Linked DNA regions of Homo sapiens: all the other regions are linked to region 3. Evidence: fine-mapped expression QTL. A gene starts in region 3. Each other region holds a variant in brackets. All regions are shown on one strand. Distances are between the middles of the regions. Region 1 overlaps TMEM45B (transmembrane protein 45B). Region 2 overlaps TMEM45B (transmembrane protein 45B). Region 3 holds the start of TMEM45B (transmembrane protein 45B).

Region 1 (5,000 bases), 43 kb before region 3:
TGTTATTTTCAAGAATCACATTTCACATAGAAAGCCATGTGACAGTTTTTAAATTAAAAAAAAAAAAAGGTAGAAATTCCAGAGATCTTGTCTTAGGTATTTACTGCCAGCTACAAACAAACCCCTTTTGAATTTACTTAACAAGGAATTTAATAAAAGTAGCTCTGGCATTCAGCCGCAGCCCTGCCCACATTCCTGTTAGCTGAGGTCACCTGACTCTGCTTGTCGTTTTTGCACAGGCAGACGTGTGCATTCTGGAGAGCAGGGAGTGAGTGTAAAGTTTAGGCTGCGTCAGGATGCTGACTCCTCAGAAGTGTAACTTCGGCACTATCCAGCCTGTGGGTGGAATGGCAATAGCGGAGAATGGGAACTTCCTACTGGAGCTGTTTACGGTGACAGCCCAGGATTTGTGCCACACTTGCTTCCTTCATATGCTGGCTTCAGGTTTCTGATAGATGAATGGCACAGCTATGGTGAGTGTTTTGTTTTTGTTTTTGTTTTTGAGATGGAGTCTCACTCTGTAGCCCAGGCTGGAGTGCAGCGGCAAGATCTCAGCTCACTGCAACCTCCGCCTCCTGGGTTCAAGTGATTCTCCTGCCTCAGCCTCCTGAGTAGTTGGGATCAATCACAGGCACGTGCCACCACGCCCTGCTAATTTTTGTATTTTTGGTAGAAATGGGGTTTCACCATTTTGGCTAGGCTGGTCTCCAACTTGTCACCTCAGGTGATCTGTCTGCCTCAGCCTCCCAAAGTGCTGGGATTACAGGCGTGAGCCACTGCACCCAGCCATGGTGGGTGTTTTGTAGGGAACAATTTCAAAAGGACTTCTGGTGGCAACCATTGAGCCTCTGGTTGACAGATATGGGTAAAATTATTCAGAAAACATATCTAAGACAGGATGTGGAGAATAGTACTGTCATCAGTTTATACTTTAATACCACATCTAACAATGTTTATGATAGGGTTGATCACTTCCATGAAGGCATCACAAGCCTTGCTGTGTGAAGGGCATCTGAATACATTTTAATATTTTATATCTGTTCTTCACACCTTAGCCCCTCACTCTGGAGAAAATAGTACATTTTCTTTCTTAAAATATGGTACACTTAAAGAAACCTCAAATGTGGATCTTTTCTTTGAAAGTAAAACTGAACAGGTCCTTCTGCCCACCTGCAGTCCCCAAGGAAAGAACACATGTTACGTTCATTGCCAATAATAGGTCCTTCAGTACTTGTTGAATGAAGAATACTTGTGTTTTTCCACTGGCCAACCAAGGTGGATCCTGAAAGTGGAACCCGGAGTTCTCTAATAACTAAATTAGTGTTTTTAGTAGCTCATTTTGAATCCCTAAGCTGTGACTTCAACTCTGAAAGGCTGGCTAACTCTGGGAGGTTACCTTCACTTAATTAAGTACAGCATTTCTTCCAAAGCGCATGCAGTGCTTTATGTAAATTCTCTCTCCTGGATTTGTGTGACGTAGCAGGGTTAGAATGGTGAGACAGATGCCTGGTTTTGGAGTCATAAGACTGGCTTTGCCACCTAGCATCTGTGTGGTCTTAGGCCAGCCAACTTTTCTTTTTTTTTGAGATGGAGTCTCACTCTGTTGCCAGATTGGAGTGCAGTGGCATAATCTCGGCTCACTGTGCAACCTCCGCCTACTGGGTTCAAGTGATTCTCCTGCCTCAGCCTCCCAAGTAGCTGGGACTACAGGTGCTCACCACCACACCAAGCTAATTTTTATATTTTTAGTAGAGACAGGGTTTCACCATGTTGGCCAGGATGGTCTCGATCTCTTGACCTCATGATCCACCCGCCTCGGCCTCCAAAAGTGCTGGGATTACAGGCGTGAGCCACCGCGCCCTGCTAGGCCAGCCAGCTTTTCTGAAAGACCTCATGCTCTTACACATTACAAGCGGTTGTGAGAATCAAATGAGATAGGGTGCATCTCAGAATCTGAAAAATACT[A/G]TGCACACGGAAAGTATTATTTGGTCTCTAAGGCCCATCAACTTGGTCCTAACTCACTTTTATCAGTTTGTAGAACTTAATCTTTTTAAGTTCTCCGTATTTTTTTATGCTTTCATTTTTTAATGTGCTACCCTCTCTACCTGGGATGTGCTTTTTCTACAGGGCAAGCTCTGCATTTCCCCTCCTCTCCTTTTTCTCATCGTGGTTTGTACTTGCCTCTCAGCACCCATCACACTGGATGTAACTACAGGCATGTCTCTCCTGTTTGACTGTAAACTCCTTGCTGGACACATATCTCAGGAGTCCTTACAGCCATTTCAGTGCTGTTGCAAAGTGGATATTTAATAAATATTTGTTGAAGGAAGTCTGTTTGCTTGTTTTTGAGACAGAGTCTTGCTCTGTCACCTAGGCTGGAGTACAGTGGCATGATCTGGGCTCACTGCAAGCTCCCCTACCGGGTTCATGCCATTCTCTTGCCTCAGCCTCCCGAGTAGCTGGAACTACAGGCGCCCGCCACCACACCCGGCTAATTTTTTGTATTTTCAGTAGAGACGGGGTTTCACCATGTTAGCCAGGATGGTCTTGATCTCCTGACCCCGTGATCTGCCTGCCTCGGCCTCCCAAAGTGCTAGGATTATAGGCGCGGTGAAGGAAGTTTTTTTAAAAAAAGAACAGATCCAGAAGCAAGATTAGGGTATCAAGATTTTACATTACTAATTCTGAATTCGTTATCCTTTGCTTTCAGCCATATTAAAACTGAAAGCCTTCCATACCTGACGTTTTTCTATCTCATTATACAGCTTTCCTGTCAGATCTTCTTTTAGGGTGACTTTGAAGAATCAGAACATCAGGGCTCCAACTCTCAGTAGAGCCAGTAACCAGCTTCCTGATTTAAAAAAAAATCACCTTTGGCCTAATTTTGTCACTTATAAACAGTGGTATTGCAGTACCCTGGTATGATTAGTTATGATATGTTTAACAATAATTTTAAAATACCAAAGCTTGTGAATTATTTTACTTTCAAAAAATATGTAAGTTAGAATTGTAATTCTAAAGGCACTGTCGTTTGCTTACACATTCTAACATATTTCTAATAAGAAAGTACCTGCTTTCTTAAGAGAAAAAGGGATAAGTTACCAAAAGCAGCACGTTCTCCTGGGCTCATACCCCGGATTCATCCATGAGGCCACTTCCATTGTAAAGCTTTTAGCATCTCTTGATTTCTCTTGACACTGAGGCACAAAGGCCTGCTACTTATAGGCATTACTTCATTTTTCCTTATGAAGGGTACTATACCAACACAGACTTTATAGTATGTTTAAAAATCCCAACTGCAAGATACACAGGATGCTGTAGGCCTGATTTCCTGTTGTAGAACCTCCAGCCCTGTGTTGAATGAGGAGGTGCAAATATATAGACCCTTAAGATCAGACCACAGCAGGCATTCAGGTGGAGGGGATGAACTCCATTCATTCCAGCTGTGCAGTGGGACATCTGCGCCCTCCGCATCTCGGCTCATTCCTCATCTGAGCCACTCAAGAGGGCGGTCTGGTAAGTGTCATCTGAATTCAGCTTCTGAATTCCAATGATTTCTCCCCTTCCGTGTCTCTTCATCCGAGTCAAAAGGCTTTAATAGAGAAAGAGTAAGAGCCAATTAGCCAGAGATTCCCTTAATCCATTACCAAGGATGTGAAGGCATCTACTGATTCTTAAACTATTTTCTTTATATTTCTATCAAATACTGTGATTACATGTCTATAAACTAGACTTCTTAGGAAATATTCATCAGTAGATAAAGGGGCGATGGTGGAAACTACTGAATGTCATAATTGAGGCCAAGGTCTTGCCTATCTTGGTTTACTGTTTCAGTGGCTGGGCAGGAGAACTAAAAGAAACTGACTTGAGCTCCCTTCTCTTTGGTCCGTGTGGAACTCTTTCTGGATGAAATAATGGCAAAAATCACCGTTACTTTTGCACCAACCTAATATTCTGCTTGGGATCTAGAGAAATGACCTAGAAGAAAAGGTAGAGGCAGCCGAACAGCAAATAGAACTGGTAATACCATTTGCTAAAATTCACCCTTGCACTGAGAGGCTCTGCCATTTATTAGTGGGGTGACCTTGGTCAAGTTACTCAGCTTTTTGAAGCCTTGTTTTCTCCACCTGTAAAAAATAACAGTGCATACTTCATAAAGCAGTGAAGATTAAATGGGATAATAGAGTGTAGCTGCTTTCCACTGGGCCTGGGGCGCAGCAAGTGCATAGGAGTCCATAGCTGTTATCTGTATACCTCTAAGGAGCCTTCAGTGAGGGGTGGAGTGCAGTTTGTCTTAACATTCTGCTCTGGTTTATTTTTTGACTGTCACATCATTTCTGGGAAGCAGGGAGGGCAGGTCTGGAAATAAGATGATGGGTCCAGAATGAACCCTTTACGTGGGGACTGCCATCCAGTACTGATTCCCATTTCAGTATTCCCCACCACACCATAGGCTTAAAATCTGTGAGACCTGCATTTGAAACCTGGGTCCCTCAGGTTACTATGACTTTGAAAAGCCCTCAGGTCATTAAACTTTGAAAAGCCTCATTCCCCTTGTTTGCAAATAAGGGTAGTGATACCTTCCCTGCATGAGAGTACCTTGCACAGAATTTGGCCTGTAGTCGGCACTCATCAGATGGTGCAAGTTAATCACATCAGTCCTGCTTAGAGTTAGGAGGAAAAGCTTCACTGAAGTCTCAGACATACCAGTAAACAAGAGAATAGTTGACGGCCACAATGCTGAGGGCAGCCAGGTAGTGCCAGCAGAAGCACATGGTGATGAACATGAGGTTGGCATCATCCTTCTGGTCCCATTCGGGTGTTCCAAAAGGTGGGAACAGCACAAACCCAATCTAGGGGATTACAGAGAGAAGTTGGTCTTGTGGTTGGTCGTCCTGAGAAGCAATCTAGCCGTTCTCCTGTGGCCACCGAAGTGGCCCATGTGTGACCACCGCCTCATAGTTCCCACACTTCGTTAGCATAGAAAGGCCTTTTCACAT
Region 2 (5,072 bases), 36 kb before region 3:
ATCACCGAAGTTTCCTCCTACACCTGTCTCAGCTAGGTTCTTCAGCATTTAGGCAGTTAGTACATAACATTACAGGCAGCAAACAGATGCGAGTAAGTGTATTTCATGAGTATGTTAGGAGTATAAAGCAGCAAGGGATTGTATCTTAAAATCTCTATGGAACCCATGGTGGGGTCAGTATAGGATGGGCCGGCTGAAGCATGTTGCTGATTTGTAACAGACTGTGTGTGTATACTTGAAATTCAGTTTTGCCCTCAACCTTTTTCGACTCTTGCTGAGGTACAGAAGTGAGGTTGTTAGATGACAAAATGTATTTTCATACCCCAGTCAGTGTGAGTCATACTGGCAGCGCTCCCCTGGCAGTGGAGTGGGTCTCCTGAGGCTTGTGATGGAGGCAAGACGGTACCTCCCTGGGCAAAAGGTAGAGTGTGGTTTCGCTTAACCAAAGGGGTGTATCCCCTGCATGGTGGCATTCAACCAGCTGGGGCATTGTGTGTACCCGCATGTGTATGTGCGCACATACGTCCACACCGAGGAATATGCACGTGTGTGAGCAGGGGCTGCTGGCGGCAGTGGGAAGGCGAGGAGGACTCCTGCAGTGTTAGCCGGGGCTTTGGTAGCTGCCTTCAAGCCTCAAAGCTTTCATGAGCTACTTTAGGGAATATGTCACCTGGCCCATCCAGAGTAGAGCACTAGGTCCTATTCAGGTTTTGGCAGTCCAGAGATGTGGATTTTCTGGGGGAGGTTATTATATTTGCAACATTTCTGATATTTTGTACTCTGATCCTTCATAAATATGACTTGTCAGGCTCTCCTTCCTCTCCATCCGTTCCACAAAATTACCTTCCATGAATACTGCCACAGCCATAACCAGTCTGTCCACCCCCAAGGGAACGTGGCTGACCAGATAGGTGAGCATGTCAACAATTCCTGAGACTGCAAAGAATAGGTACATGGTGCTGTGCTGCCAATTCATTAACTTTATCCAGTGGTTCTCATGGTAGAGGTGCAGGTGGGGCCCATCCGGAACAAACTGCTCTGCCAGGATCCCTGCAGGGAAATGAGGATGGATGTTTTAGAGGGAAGAGTAGCTCTAAGACAAATAGGAGCAAGGAATAACCCAAAGGCATGAGCGAAGCGGAGATGGGGTGAGGTGAGGGTGGCCCGCGGGTCAGCAGAGCTACTTTGCTGCCTCAGGTGCAGCTGCTTCAGTATAAAGTAGGGTGTGTGCTGAGTCACCTGTGTAGACATCTTGCCATTGTTGTTCCTTTTAGGGGTTTGGGGTTGAGGGTAGAAGAATCAATGAACACAACCACACACACATAGATCCCCAGGAGGTTTGTCCAGGAGCAGAGATGAGCAAGACATCATCACTTAAGTCGGAGTGTGGCTGATAGAATAATCTCTGGGCTTCCCTGCCAAGTGAGCAGTGAAAGAAATCCCAGACAGAAACAATTAGGCTGAAAGCAGAATCTGAGCAGAGACACACTGGTAATGAAGATACCTGTACGTGCCAAGGGAGGGAAGCGGCTCCCAGGTGCGTGTCTGCAGGGCTGATTTTGAGTGCGTGTCCTTCCTGGGCACAGAGCCAGCTCTGCAAGCCCTGCGCCCCTCCCAGCTGTGTGTTTTAAAACACCGGGTAAACAAGGCAGAGGCCCCAGGATGTGGGCCAGAAAATGACGAAACTGCGACACAGGATAGCTCTTAGTTCTTATCCCTTCTACTTTTATCAGCTAATTTGGAAGGCAAAAGATTTGTCTTTATGCCTGGTACCCAAAGTGTTCTTGGGGAAGCCTAGAAGAAATCCTCCATGATGACATTTTGGACTCCGTTTCCCAGATACTTGTTTCTCAAGCCAGACCCTTTTTGAATTCCCACACACAGAGTCAGGAAGTTGTGGAAATGACCCAGGAAAAGTCCCAGTGACACTAGAATGGAAGCCCTGTGACAGCAGCGGCTGTGTGGTTCCCCAGTGTATCTCCTATGCCTGGAACAGTGACTTCCTGGCTTGTGGTAGGAGTGCCAGAGAGCTGTTGAATGAGTACCATTTTCACCCAGTCAAGGGGCCAAATATTGTAATTGTCCTAGCTTTATTTAGGCAAGGTTGATGCTGTCCTGATCCTTTAAGCCACAGGTCCCTGTCACTTCTCACGGGAGGCCTCTCTGATGCCTGAATGGTGAGTGGGGACATTCAGCAGGATGAGACCAACAAAGCCCTGTGAAGCTTTGCTTCCTCCAAGAGAAGCGATGTTGCTTCACTCTCTCCAAGAAGCCATAGGCCACTGATGACAAGTGGTAATTGTCAGTTGCAGATTAAGACCCCTCATTCCCCCCAGGTGGGGCTGGTCCTGAGGAAGAACACTTGTTACTGTCATCACTGCTTGTTCCTGGAGGGCCGCAGTGGAGCGGAGTGGATGCGAAGGAAACAGTGGGAGTGGGTGGATCTTG[T/C]TGGAATGGGGCAGAGTGAAGGAAAATTCCTCTTCAACAGCCCTCTGCTGCTTTTTCTCTCCCACTGGCTAATTTACGAATCTACATAAACTCTCTATAAGCGCTTGAGACTTGAGGATGAAGATAAGCCAGTGGGTTGGGTGTTAACTACTGTAAGGATCTGGAGGGAGAGACAATTGAGGAAAAAAGGTGATTTTTCTACTTTGTCACAACTAAGGTACGTGAGCCTAATCTATTTTGTTTTTTTCTCTTTTTATTTGTGTCATATCTTTTTCATACAGTGGGTGTTTTGCTCCTACAACTTTCCATACCTGTGTCCTTGTTGATTTGAGTTTTTCACAGTGTCCCATGATGTGAGAGCTGTCAACCGTTAGTATTATAAAGCTCTGTACACAATGGATGTTACGATAAAATAGTCTAGTGGCCATCAGGAAATTGTTGCCCTATTATCTCTGCCAGTGGGAACATCTATTTCACAGGGCTCAGAAAATGAATTAAAGGTTCTGGGTATGATGAGGAGATTCCCTAGACCAAATGACCCCTGCTCTTACCAGTGACGGAAAACAAAGTCCTAATTGCGGCTTCGACGATCTCGAGACGCTGATAGTAATGTAGTGGGCTGTTCTTCCGCGTGTGGCTAAAGTACTTCAGCGGGTACTTCACTGACCAACACAGCCCAATGATCAGGAAGAAACTCCCTGGAAGCGCGTGGCCCTTGAAATTTGCCATCAGGACACCTAAAAAATTAGGGGAAGGCTGTTAGGTGGCTAATGAAGCAAGCAAACAAATGTATATTTTGGCAGGAAACACAATACGTGCCTGAGATTGCAAATCATAAGCCACGTTAAGAAGGATCAACACATTCTCATAAAACAAGCCTTATGTTACGTCACTGAAGTCTCATCTGTAAAGTGAGTTGCATAACCAACTGGACTCCACTGTCTGTAATGCTTTAAACATGTGGGTAAAATAAAAGGATGAGGGTGGGGAAAGAGGAGGATAGGTAATATTTATTGATCTCAGATAGAGAAAACTTCCAAGCCATAAACATAAAGGGGGGAACTAGAAAAGAAAAACGTTCAGCTATATAAGCATCTTTTAATATCAAGAACATCAAAAGGTAAACAACAAATCAGAAACATGCTTGTAGCAGTTGGCTATTACATTAGAGTCTTTACAAATTGATAAGAAAAAGACCGTAGAAGAATAGGCAGAAGACATGAACGGATGATTCACAAAATAATACAAACAAATTATAAATCTCCCGGAAATTAGAGATGGGCAAACGAAAGCACAACATCATTTTTCACCCAACTGGAAAATAATTTTATAAAGTTTTGGTGTGGTGGTCTAGTACAAATGAACCTGGTCAATATGATTCACAGTTTGTAAAAATCAGCATAACGATGTAAACATCACCTTATTCCAAAAATTTTCAGGCATGATTTGCTGTTATCCCATTTGCAGTAGCATGAAACTATAGCTAGGATTTATTCAGAAGTAGATTGATTATTTTCCCCACTGGCCTGGGTGGTTACCTAAAGAATATGTAGGGTGGGAGAAAAATACCAGTTGTTGGTGATTGCTGTGGTTTGAATGTGTCCCCTCCAAAATCCAGGTGTTGCCAAGGTGATAGCATTAAGAGAAGGGGACTTTTTTTTTTTTTTTGAGGCAGAGTTTCACTCTGTCACCCAGGCTGGAGTGCAGTGGCACGATCTTGGCTCACTACAACCTCTGCCTCCCAGGTTCAAGCGATTCTCCTGCCTCAGCCTCCCGAGTAGCTGGAATTACAGGCACCCGCCACCACGCCTGGCTAATTTTTATATTTTTAGTAGAGACGGGGTTTCACCATGTTGGCCAGGCTTTTCTCGAACTCCTGACCTTAGGTGATCTGCCCACCTCGGCCTCCCAAAGTGCTGGGATTACAGGTGTGAGCCACCACACCCGGCCGAGAAGAGGACTTTTAAGAAGGGACTAGGCCATGAGGGCCCCTCCCTCCTGAACTAGGAGCAGATGCCCTCCCTCATACAGGGGTTGGCTGGAGGGAGCTGGTCCCCTGTTTGTCCTCCTGCATGTGAGGATGCAGCCCTCAGCAGACACCAGATGCTGCTGCCTTGATCTTGGACTTCCCAGCTTTCAGAACAGTGAGAAATAAATTGTTGTTCTTTATAAATTACCCAGTCTGCGTATTGTGTGATATCAGCACAACAGGGACTAAGACAGAAATTGGTACCAGAGGAGTTTATAACATTTATAACCAGGGGTTATAACAAATATGTAAAAATGTGGGGGTGGCTTTGGAACTGGATAATGAATACAAGCTGGAACAGCTTTGAAGTGAGTGCTGAAAAAAGCCTGGATTGCCATGAACGGAGCACTAAGGATGATTCTGGTGAGGGCTCAGAAGAAGAGGAGAGCTGTAGATGTGGGATATGAGCTGTGGGGAAAGCCTCGTTCTTAGAGATTGCCTAAGTGGTCATGAACAGAATGTTGATAGAGATACCGATGGTGAAGGCAATTCTGATGAGGTCTCAGACAGAAATAAAGAACAAGGTATTGGAAACTAGAAGAAAGGTTATCCTTGTTAGAAAGTGGTAAAGAACTTACCTGAATTATGTCGTTTC
Region 3 (11,187 bases):
GTCACTTTAAAAATAGACACAGACATTGTAGGTAGCTGAAGAAAACTTCTAAAATGTAGAAAAAGTACTGAGTTAATATGCTTGGAGAAAGAAGAGAAGATGCTGCGTTCATGAAATGAGAACAGGATACTGTAAAAACCATTCAGAAGACCACACCTCTCGCCAATAAAAGCTCCTGAGAATTAAAAATATAATGGTAGAATGTAAACATTTAATAGCATTGTTGGAAGATTTATTAGAACTAAAAAAACATGGGATATTTTTTAAAATAAAAAAGATAAAATTACAAGACAGATCCAAGAGATCCCATTTTCAGATTCAGTCTAAGTAATTTAAGTTTCAGAAAGAAAGAACGAGGAAATTATATAACAGAAGAAAACCACTCAGAACTGAAGAATGTACTTTTTGGATTGAAAAGGCCTAGAAAATACTTAGGACAGTGACGGATACCTCCCTGTATTCCCCCCACCCCGCCAAAAAACCCACCCCAACATTAAATAACAACATCATGAAATATCAGAATATGAACAATAAAGAAAACCCTACAAATGCCCAGAGATTAGAACAAAATACAAGGGATCAGGAATTAGAATGGCATCAGCCTCTCAACAGCACCGTAAGAAAGTAGAATAAAATAGAGCAATGTTTTCAAAATTCGTACGGGAAATGATTTCTGATTAATATCCCATACCCAGCCAAACCAGCAAGCAAGTGTGAAGGAAGAAAAGTGACATCTCAAATGGGCACAAGCTCAAAAAGCAACCGCATCTTATGGGGCCTGAATCTTATACACTTTTGGGAGCCTTCTTTAAGAAAAAGGCGTAAAATTACAAAAACTGTACATAATTGGGTATGAAAGTACATATGTATTCCACAAGAGATGGCCTAGACAGAAAAAAAAAGTGTGTGTGTATTTAGAATGAGAAAATAAATCACAACAGACAGGGACCGTGGAGGTTCTAGACTCTGTCTTTTCAGATGTGCTTGGAAAATTTACCCCAAATGCTTCTTGATGGCGGCCTGGCGTTTCCTCCCCACTCAACAGCTCCATGCAATTAGCAGCACTCAGAGGGCCCCCATGAGTTTCCTTGGCTCCAGGAAATGACTTCTTGGTGATGAGTTCTCAAACAACTAAAGAAAATGTAGCAACTCCTACACCCCATTCCAGGGGGTTGGGGGAAAGACTGGTCAAGAAGGGAAATGTAAAGATCATGGTGTATCATGTGCCTTAGTTGGGAATAATATATACACCAAACATTGACATATCAAAAATTTAGGATATAACCGTACTGGGAACTTAAAAGAAAGGGATGTGAAGGTGAGAGGGAGGGTGGGGGTGTAAAGGAGCGAAACCCTCATCCTTCTTGGTAGGATGTCAATAGATGTCATCCAGAACTGGAAAAGAGAAGAAGAAATGGCCCGTATCTGCATGCTATTTAGAATATGGTAATATCAGAAAAACACAACCCAAAGCATTGAAAGTAATTGCCGCTAGGGTTCTATACTCAGTATAAACTCAATGAAAACCTTCTACAATGAACGACTTCTAAGACTATACATTGATTTATGTTGACCAAAGCAGATAATTAAAAAATAAAGTATACCCTCAAGAGGAGTGAGGCAAAAAGCTAACAGAAATAAAATAAAGTCGCTTTTGCTAAACTACCTGACATTCGGTGTTTCTCAAAATGTATTCCCGCAACCACCTGCCCTCAGATGACCTGGCGTGCCCGTCCATAATGGAGAATTATAGACCCAGCCCAGACCTACATAATCAGCAGTTCTCAGAGTGGTCCTTGCACTCTACCATTTAAAAAAGTTCCCCTGGACCCACTGCATTACCCATTGCTTTTTAGTAAAACAAACAAAAAACCAAAACAAATAACAACCTATTTAGAGACAGGATCTATGACTCATAAAACACACTATGGCAGATGCTGCTAGCTGCCTACCCAATGTTCATTCTCCCCCCGCCTTATTAACAAAATTCCTATTTTGTTGTTATTATTATTTTTTTGAGATGGAGTTTCGCTCTTGTTGTCCAGGCTGGAGTGCAAGTGGCATGATCTCGGCTCACTGCAACCTCTGCCTCCTGGGTTCAAGCGATTCTCCTGCCTCAGCCTCCTGAGTAGCTGGGACTATAGGCGCCTGCTAGCACGCCCGGCTGATTTTTTGTGTTTTTAGTAGAGATGGGGTTTCACCATGTTGGCCAGGCTGGTCTTGAACTCCTGACCTCAGGTGATCCACCCGCCTTGACCTCCCAAAATGCTGGAATTACAGGCGTGAGCCACTGTGTCTGGCCCAAAATTCTTATTTTGATGTATTGGCAACGTGTCTGTCTCAAACACTAGATTCTCTCTGGTTCCGTCACCGTTAACAGTGTGTATGTGATATGGTTCTGGCCAATGACATGTAAGAAGTCTTTTGGGGTGGGCTACCAGAAAAGCTGTTATTATTATTATTTATTATAAAGAAGGACAGGCCAGGCGTGGTGGCTCACATCTGTAATCCCAGCACTTTGGGAGGCCGAGGGGGGCAGATCACAGGGTCAGGAGTTCAAGACCAGCCTGACCAACATGGTGAAACCCCGTCTCTACTAAAAATACAAAAATTAGCTGGGCGTGGTGGTGCACGTCTGTAATCCCAGCTACTTGGAGGCTGAGGCAGGAGAATCACTTGAACCCAGGAAGCGGAGGTTGCAGTGAGCCGAGATTGTGCCACTGAGAGAGACTCTGAGTCAAAAGAAAGAAAGAGATGAGACAGAGAGAGAGAGAGAGAAAAGAAAAGAAGAGAGAAAAGAAAAGAAAAGAAAAGACAAGACAAGACTCTTCTGGAGCATGCCTCTGCCCGTCTTTCTGCTGCAACTTGCGGAAGTGAGTATGAAAGCTCCATGCTAAGGAGGGTGGTGCGGGAAGACACAAGGAGCCTGTCTCAGATGACGTTCATATCGGAACCCCTTTCCCAGCCCCAGCCTTCTCACCTCCAGACTTCTCGTTCTCTGAGAAAAACAAACTCCTTACTTGTTTAAGCCGCTGTAGTAGGGTTTTCTGTTCTTGTAGCTGAATGAACGTCTAATGACATCTCACACTTTTTCAGATGTTTATCTGACATACCACATTTTATGTATGCCTGCTATGGGCACTGTGCTAGGAATAAGACAAGTAAAGCTCTCTTTGTCATGGAACCAGGAGCACAGTTAGAACAGAAGTTAGAACTTTAGCCACTATAATAACGGCTACAGTTATAATAACAGTTAGAACAGAAGGTCCATAGGCATTTGAGGCTGGGATTCAAGGAGGTTATGTTTGCTGTCACAGACCTCAAACCAAAAGAGTACATCAAAATAAGTCACTGGATTTATACATTTGGCAAATTCTCAAGGGACCACATGACAGAAGGAGCAAAAATCTGAACATTGTTTTTAGCTGTAATTCTCCAATGAAGTAGATTTGGGGAAGCAACATGAGGTACTTGCTTTATTTTTCTTAAATCCGGTTTTCTTCCTTGAAAAACCACAAGATTGGACTTGACAATCTTTAAGGTTATACTCAGCTCTAAGATATTTTTGTAATTATATGGAACAAAGATGGGCATGAAATATACCAAACGAGAGAGTTTCTAAATTTAGATTCTGATAATTCAAGTCAGAAAACATATTAAGTGTTCGGGAAAAACAAATCACAATCTTCCATCACAAAATTCAACAAGAACAACAAAAACCACTCCAGAGGCAGCTGTGGTATTCTGGAAGGAATGTTGGTTTGAGTTCTGGCTCTGCCATTTAATTACTGGCTAACCCTGGACCACATACACAATATCTCTGTTTCCATCTCCTCATTTTTGAAATACGGATTCTAATCTGACCTGAACAGTGCTGTTTACAAACATCGCCTTGTGCTCTATAAAGCCCCATTATGATTTCAACAACCAGCAAGATAATGGCTTATGATATCTAAGTCCTGGCAAGGAGAATGCGGGTGTGTACCTTGCTATATTCAGTTGAACTCTGCATCACATACAGAAGGCTGATAGACCTTTTAGCTTTCCTTTTTCCTCCAGTAGTGTAGCTTGTGGCCATTTAAGTTTTACACAAGAGAATAGAAAAGAGAGATAAAATTTGCTAAAATTCAAATAGTCTATTTGTGTTTGTTTCTAGCCTCAGTGAAGGTTTTGGGGAGAGGGGTAGCTGGTTAAAAGAGTAGAAGCTTAAGAGTTCAAAGAAAGTGTGAGGAGGACAGCACTCACCTGTGGCCTCTAATTGTTCATATTCAGTATGGTCTCATACTGGGAATAATCTAGTGTTTGTCTTATGATCTTTCTATAGAAACAAATATGGAATGTGTCTATAAGTACCATTAGTTGATGACACACTAGTGACTTTAATTCTCTTACAGTAAAAAGTTTTGCAATAGCAAGGACTTTGGCTAGGGGAGTGACTCTATGTGTGGTGAAACTGTCCTCACCCATTTTTCATTTGAGGAAAAGAGATAATCTTTTGATTACACCCAACACAGGTAACATCTGTACTTTGAACAGTTAAGTATAGCAGCTGATGTTTAACTGCAGGTAGGGGGGAGATGAGAAACAGAAATAACTGGTGCCAAATGTGAGATTCAATTACCTCGACCATCACAACCAACATCAACCAGAAGGGTGTGGGAGGAACTCATGGAATAAATGGGAACAGGTGTGGCCTGAGGATAAGTAAGTGGGGGCACTGTTTCCATCTTCATGAAGATGTGAGAGGAAATCAAAGCTCTTTAAAAAGAAGGAAATGGAATGCTTGGCTCCTGTAATATCAGAACAAATAATGCACAGCCAGAGGTCATGCCTCACCTTCTGCTTATCTCAGTCACCTCCACTTGTAAAATCAGTGGGCCATATTCAATAAAACCTTCATATCAGTTCCATATCTTTTCCCAGAAACCCCAGGAACAGAGGGAGCCAATATCCTTATTAAACCAAGAAGCTCACTGTCACAAAGAGCTAAGTCTGACGCCCCTGGGCCCCTACCTAACCACGTGTCCTGATTCTTTCCATAACTTCCCACTGCACAACATCCAGGTTATACTGAAGATATTACACATCTGGTTAAAAACAGTACACGTCTCTCATGAACAATAAGCCATCCTTTCTATTAAAATGAGTGTAAAATTGCAGGTAAAATGCTGTAGGCAGGCCTGTTTGGAAGGCTATGCGACCCTAGGAGACAAAAAGGTGCAGGAGGAGGAAAAGGGCAGACACCGCAGAAAGCGGTCGAAGAGAACGTGAAAGAAGTGGCCATTTCTAGCTGGGCGCGGTGGTTCACGCCTGTAATCCCAGCACTTTGGGAGGCTGAGGCGGGTGGATCATGAGGTCAGGAGATCGAGACCATCCTGGCTAACACGGTGAAACCCCGTCTCTACCAAAAAAAAAAAAAATACAAAAAATTAGCCGGGCGTGGTGGCGGGCGCCAGTAGTCCTAGCTACTCGGGAGGCTGAGGCAGGAGAATGGTGTGAACCCGGGAGGTGGAGCTTGCAGTGATCCGAGATTGCGCCACTGCACTCCAGCCTGGGCGACAGAGCGAGACTCCGTCTCAAAAAAAAAAAAAAAAAAAAAAAGAAGTGGCCATTTCTGCAACTTTTAGGAGAGCTACCTGCCCTCAAATTTTGAAAGGGTTTCTATTTCTTAAAGTGCTACGTTTCCCTGGCTGAAACTCACATCTTTCTTCCCTCTAGGGCTGGATCAAAGCTTCAGAGGTTGTTTCTCTGGCCCTAGACAGGGCCACCCCCGCAAATTTCTCCCCCACTGCGCCTGACATCCGCTTCCATCCATGGCTCCATTAACGGAAGCTAAGCACTGGCTCGGGGGACTTTATCCACCGCCCGGTGTTATTAGATTCCAGGCTTCCTGGCCTCAGGAAAGGATCTGGCTCGTGTATTTGTGTATCGCAGCTAACAAGGAAAGGCAGTCGGTACCAGTGCCCAGAGCTATGTGAGCTGTGACTGGTCACAGCCCAGGAGCCAGATGGCATCCCCGGGGGCGCGCGTCCCCGGACTCACCGGGCAGACGGAGGCCCGGGGCTTCACACCTTCCCCTCACCGGGCAACGCGGCAGACCTGACTCGCGGGGGACTGAGCAATATTCGTTCCAGGGCCGCGGCCAGCCGGACAGAGGCACTCGGGGGCGGTGGGAGTAGTGTGCGCACCGGTTCCGCAGCCCGGAGGGGGCCCCAGCTGGGCTTCCGCGACACCAGGGCCCTCCATCCCCTCCCGTCCTCCCCTAGCGCAGCCTTCACCCCTGTCCCAGAGCCCCTCCCTGTCCGCGTCCCCTCCCCCGCAGGTCCCCTGCGAGTCGGAACCTCCTCTCCATCACAGCCCCGCTCCTTGGCGGGGCCCCCTCTCCCTTCGAGCCCTCCTCCAGGTTCGAGCCCCCTGCGGGTACGGACGTCTGACCTGTGCCCAGCGCCTCGCAGCCGTCTGCAGCCCGCGCCGCGCGCCAAGTGCGTCCGCCCAGAAGCAGGTGCAGCTCCAGGCCCGCCCCGCCCCGCTGCGCCCCGCCCCGCTCCACTCCGCCAGGCCTGGCAGCCGCCAGCCCCTTTCCACCCTTGACCGCCCTTCCCGGTCCCGGCCAGCGTGCGGGGCATCTGTCGTCAGGTCCGCACTTCCTCCAGGCCTTTGACTTTCCCGTGGAGATGTCTCTGGCCTCAGGAACTCCCTAAGCTGTGTGCTTCAGGAGAGGCTGGTTCCTGAGTCACCCAAGAGGACTGCAACCAACCTGGACCTCCTGAGATGCAAAGAGATCGCAGGGCCTGGGAGGCGGCGAGGACCCTGAGAACAGGCTGTGGCTCCGAAGAGTGTTTGTTACCAAGCCAGGCAACCACTGCGAACACACCGCAGAAACAGCCACGGATCACCGTCCAGCAAAGGAAGAAGGTGCCAACGGTCCATCAGGGACCACAACCCAGTTTTTTTAGTTTAAGTTTGGTGGCTAAGTTTGAGTGTCACATAGTTCATTCATTCCTTCATTCATTCAACAAATCTGCCATGTTCCCATCTGATAACAGATCTGACAGGTGGGCACTGTTCTAGGTGCTGGCGATAGAGCTAAGAAGGAAACAAAGTTCCTGTCCCGGAGAAGGGGGCTACCTGCTGAGGAGAGCATGACTTTCTTTGTGGTATTGTGCTGTGGCAGCAGGGTCCTCTTCTGTAAGCTACTGAGAGGTGAAACCCGCTGGGCTTCTGGGTCGGATGGGGACTTGGAGAACTTTTCTGTCTAGCTAAAGGATTGTAAAAGCATCAATCTGCACTCTGTGTCTAGCTAAAGGTTTGTAAACACACCAATCAGCACTCTGTAAAAATGCACCAATCAGTGCTCTGTGTCCAGCTAATTGGTGGGGACTTGGAGAACTTTTCTCTCTAGCCAAAGGATTGTAAATGCACCAATCAATGCTCTATGTCTAGCTAAAGGTTTGTAAACACATCAATCAGCACTCTGTAAAAACGGACCAATCAGCACTCTGTAAAATGGACCAATCAGCACTCTGTAAAATGGACCAATCAGCGCTCTGTAAAATGGACCAATCAGGAGGATGTGGGCAGGACCAATCAGGAGGATGTGGGCGGGGCCAATGAGGGAATAAAAGCTGGCCATCCGAGCCAGCGGCAGCTGCGTTTGGGTCCCCTTCGATGGTGTTGGGGTTTTGTTGTTTCGCTCTTTGCAATAAATTTTGCTGTTGCTCACCTTTTAGGTCCACACTACCTTTATGAGCTTTAACACTCACAGTGAAGGTCTGCAGGTTCACTCCTGTAAACCAGCGAGACCAGGAAGCCACCACAAGAAACAACTCTGGAGCCGCCACCTTTAAGAGCCATAACACTCACTGTGAAGGTCTGTGGCTTCACTCCTGAAGTCAGCGACACCACGAACCCACAGGGAGGAGCAAACAACTCCAGACGCACCACTTTTAAGAGGTGTAACACTCCCTGCGAAGGTCTGTGGCTTCACTCCTGAGGTCGGCGAAACTACGAACCCGCTGGGAGGAAGGAACAACGCGGATGCGCCACCTTTAAGAGCTGTAACACTCCCTGCGAAGGTCCGCGGCCTCACTCATCAAGTCGTGCATAGACCACGAACTCTCTAGAAAGAAAAAACTTCGGACACACCTGAACATTTGAAGGAACAAACTCCGGACACACCATGTTTAAGAACTATAATGCCGTGAAGGTCCGCGGCAGGACCGGGACCAGGAACTCTTCAGAGGGAACCAATTCCGGATACACAGCTTCGTGGAATGGTTCTGCACTGTGTGTGTGTGTGTTTCCCGTCAACCCTGTGCACACTATTAGAAGAACACAAGCGTTAAGGCTCCCTCTCAGTCCTGCCGGTAAGAATCCAGGGCTGATGCACCTATTAAAAGCTTCTCAGGAGGCCTGGGGAAGTGGGGGTTGAGAACCACGGGTCTAGATCTCTAAGATGCCTGGCAGCTTATTCCACTGTTGAGGGCACTGGCAATCAGGAAGGGCTTCATGGAAGAGATGTTTGCATTTGGGTTTTAAAGCAGGGCCACAGCTAGATATTAGCAGTGCAGAAGGACACGGGATCCGACGGGCAGCCTGTTGACCAAATGGCTCCGTTTTTATAAAGTCAAAGAACATCACTGTGAAGGATAAGGCATTAACTGGAGCAGACCTTTCCCTGGTAAAACAGAGCGAATGGGATCTGGTGGGAGGTGGTAATGGCCAAGAGGTAGTGCCGTCAGTGAAAAGCGTCATGGAGTCGTGCACCTTACAGGGAGGATGGGCCGCAGCCAGGAGCTGAGAGGGCATCTTTTAAATTTGCCGTCAGCTCAGGAACTTAATCACACATCTCATCCTAGCCCTTGCTCACACCCATTGTTTTAGAAATCGTTGATAGAGTGGAGTCCTGGATGCCTGTTACTCTGGGAGAGGCTGTCCTCTGTCACCAGATCCCTTTTATGGACAGGCATTTTCTTTAGTAATATTTACCTTGTCTACGATGATGAAACAAAGGTGTGACCTCTTAATTGTATAGTTAATGGTGAGTAGAGATGCTTTTTTTTTTTTTACTTTTTATTTTTGAGACAGTTTTGCTCTTGTTGCCCAGGCTGGAGTGCAATGGCGCGATCTCGGCTCACCACAACCTTGGCCTCCTGGGTTCAAGTGACTCTCGTGTCTCACTCTCCTGAGTAGCTGGGATCACAGGCATGCGCCGCCATGCCCAGCTAATTTTGTGTTTTTAGTAGAGTCGGGGTTTCTCCATGTTTGTCAGACTGTTCTTGAACTCCCGACCTCAGGTGATCTGCCCACCTCAGCCTCCTAAAGTGCTGGGATTAGAGGTGTGAGCCACCTCGCCCGACGGAGATGCTTCTTAATATTAAAAAATCTAAACAAAATAATTTCTGCTTCAAATTATAATAACCAGGTACCAGGACAAAACCAATTTTTTGTTGTGTGTGTGTGTGTGTGTTTGAGACGGGCTCACTTTGTTGCCCAGGATGAAGTTCAGTGGTGCAATCATAGCTCACTGTAGCCTCGACCTCCAACGCTCAAGAGATACTCTTGCCACAGCTTCCTAAGTAGCTGGGACTACAGGTGTGCATCAACACGCATGGCTAATGTTTACATTTTTAAAAATTGCAATAGTTTTTGGGGAACAGGTCATTTTTTTGTTACATGGATAAGTTATTTAGTGGTGATTTCTGAGATTTTTGTGTACTCATCACCTGAGCAGTGTACACTGTACCCAATGTATAGTCTTTTATCCCTCACCCTCCTCCCACTTTCCCTTGAGTCCCCAAAGTCCATTATATATATATATATATATATATATATATATATATATGTATGTATGTATGTATTTTTTTTTTTTTTTTGAGACAGTCTTGCTCTGTCGCCCTGGCTAGAGTGCAGTGGCGCAATCTCAGCTCACTGCAACCTCTGCCTCCCAAGTTCAAGCGATTCTCCTGCCTCAGACCTCTGAGTAGCTGGGACTACAGGCGCGTGCCACGACGACTAATTTTTTGTATTTTTAGTAGAGACAGGGTTTCACCATGTTAGCCAGGATGGTCTCAATCTCCTGACTTCATGATCCGCCTGCCTTGGCCTCCCAAAGTGCTGGGATTACAGTTGTGAGCCACTGCACCCGGCCCATTATATCATTCTTATGCCTTTGCATCCTCATAGTTCAGCAAACCCTTATAAGTGAGAACATACACGATATTTGGTTTCCCATTCCTGAGTTACTTCACTTGGAATAGTGGTCTCCAACTCCCGTACAAATTGCTGCAAATGCCATTACTTCAGTCCTTTTTATGGCTGAGTAGTATTCCATGGTGTAAATATATCACATTTTCTTTATCCACTTGTCAGTCGAGGGGCATTTAGGCTGGTTCCATATTTTTGCAATTGTGTATTTTGCTCCTATAAACATGCAGATGCAAGTGGCTTTTTCATATAATGACTTCTTTTCTTCTGGATATATACTCAATAGTGGGACTGCTGGATCAAATGGTAGTTTTACTTTTAGTTCTTTAAGGAATCTCCATAAAGTTTTCCACAGTGGATGTACTAGTTTATATTCCCACCATCAGTGTAAAAGTGCCCTTTTCATCACATCTATGCAAACATCTACTATTTTTTGACTTTGTAAATTATGGCCAGTCTTGCAGAAGTAAGGTGGTATTTCATTGTGGTTTTAATCTGCATTTCCCTGATAATTAGTGATGTTGAGCATTCTTTTTCATGTGTTAGTCATTTGTGTATCTTCTTTTGAGAACTGTCTATTCATGTTCTTTGCCCACTTTTTGATGGGATTATTTCTTTTTTTCTTACTGATTTGAGTTCCTTGTAGATTCTGCATATTAGTCCTTTGTAGGACGCATAGTTGAATATTTTCTCCCATTCAGTGAGGTGTCTGTTTACACTGCTGATTATTTTGCTGTGCCGAAGTGTTTTCATTAGGTAATATCTATTTATTTTTGTTTTTGTTAGATTTGCTTTGGGGTTTTTGGTCTTAAAATCTTTGCCTAAGCCAATGTCTAGAAGAGTTTTTCCAGCGTTATTTTCTAAAGTTTTTATGGTTTCAGGTCTTACATTTAAGTGTTTGATCCATCTTGAGTTGATGTCTGTATAAGGTAAGAGATGAGGATCCAGTTTCATTCTTCTGTATGTGGCTAGACAGTTATC

The links. PIP is the estimated chance that this variant, and not a neighbour inherited with it, causes the effect.
Region 1: its variant is fine-mapped to the expression of TMEM45B in whole blood (TOPMed, PIP 0.99).
Region 2: its variant is fine-mapped to the expression of TMEM45B in whole blood (TOPMed, PIP above 0.99).

Annotation. Positions count from the first base shown.
Region 1 is chr11:129,857,166-129,862,165 of GRCh38, reverse strand. It overlaps TMEM45B (transmembrane protein 45B), which reads right to left. Exons shown (of 6, transcript NM_138788.5): 5 at 4,708-4,853; 6 at 2,163-3,592. The coding sequence ends at 3,481. Among named protein-coding and RNA genes, the nearest start is that of NFRKB, 36 kb to the left of the region's middle. RefSeq lists enhancers at 38-332, 1-438. The variant A/G (reference allele first, on the strand shown) is at 1,966.
Region 2 is chr11:129,850,588-129,855,659 of GRCh38, reverse strand. It overlaps TMEM45B (transmembrane protein 45B), which reads right to left. Exons shown (of 6, transcript NM_138788.5): 2 at 3,000-3,185; 3 at 844-1,050. The coding sequence starts at 3,177. Among named protein-coding and RNA genes, the nearest start is that of TMEM45B, 37 kb to the right of the region's middle. The variant T/C (reference allele first, on the strand shown) is at 2,449.
Region 3 is chr11:129,811,147-129,822,333 of GRCh38, reverse strand. TMEM45B (transmembrane protein 45B) reads right to left here and starts at 6,486. Exons shown (of 6, transcript NM_138788.5): 1 at 6,436-6,486. It overlaps LOC124902793 (a long non-coding RNA gene), which reads left to right and starts at 7,647. Exons shown (of 2, transcript XR_007062952.1): 1 at 7,647-8,366.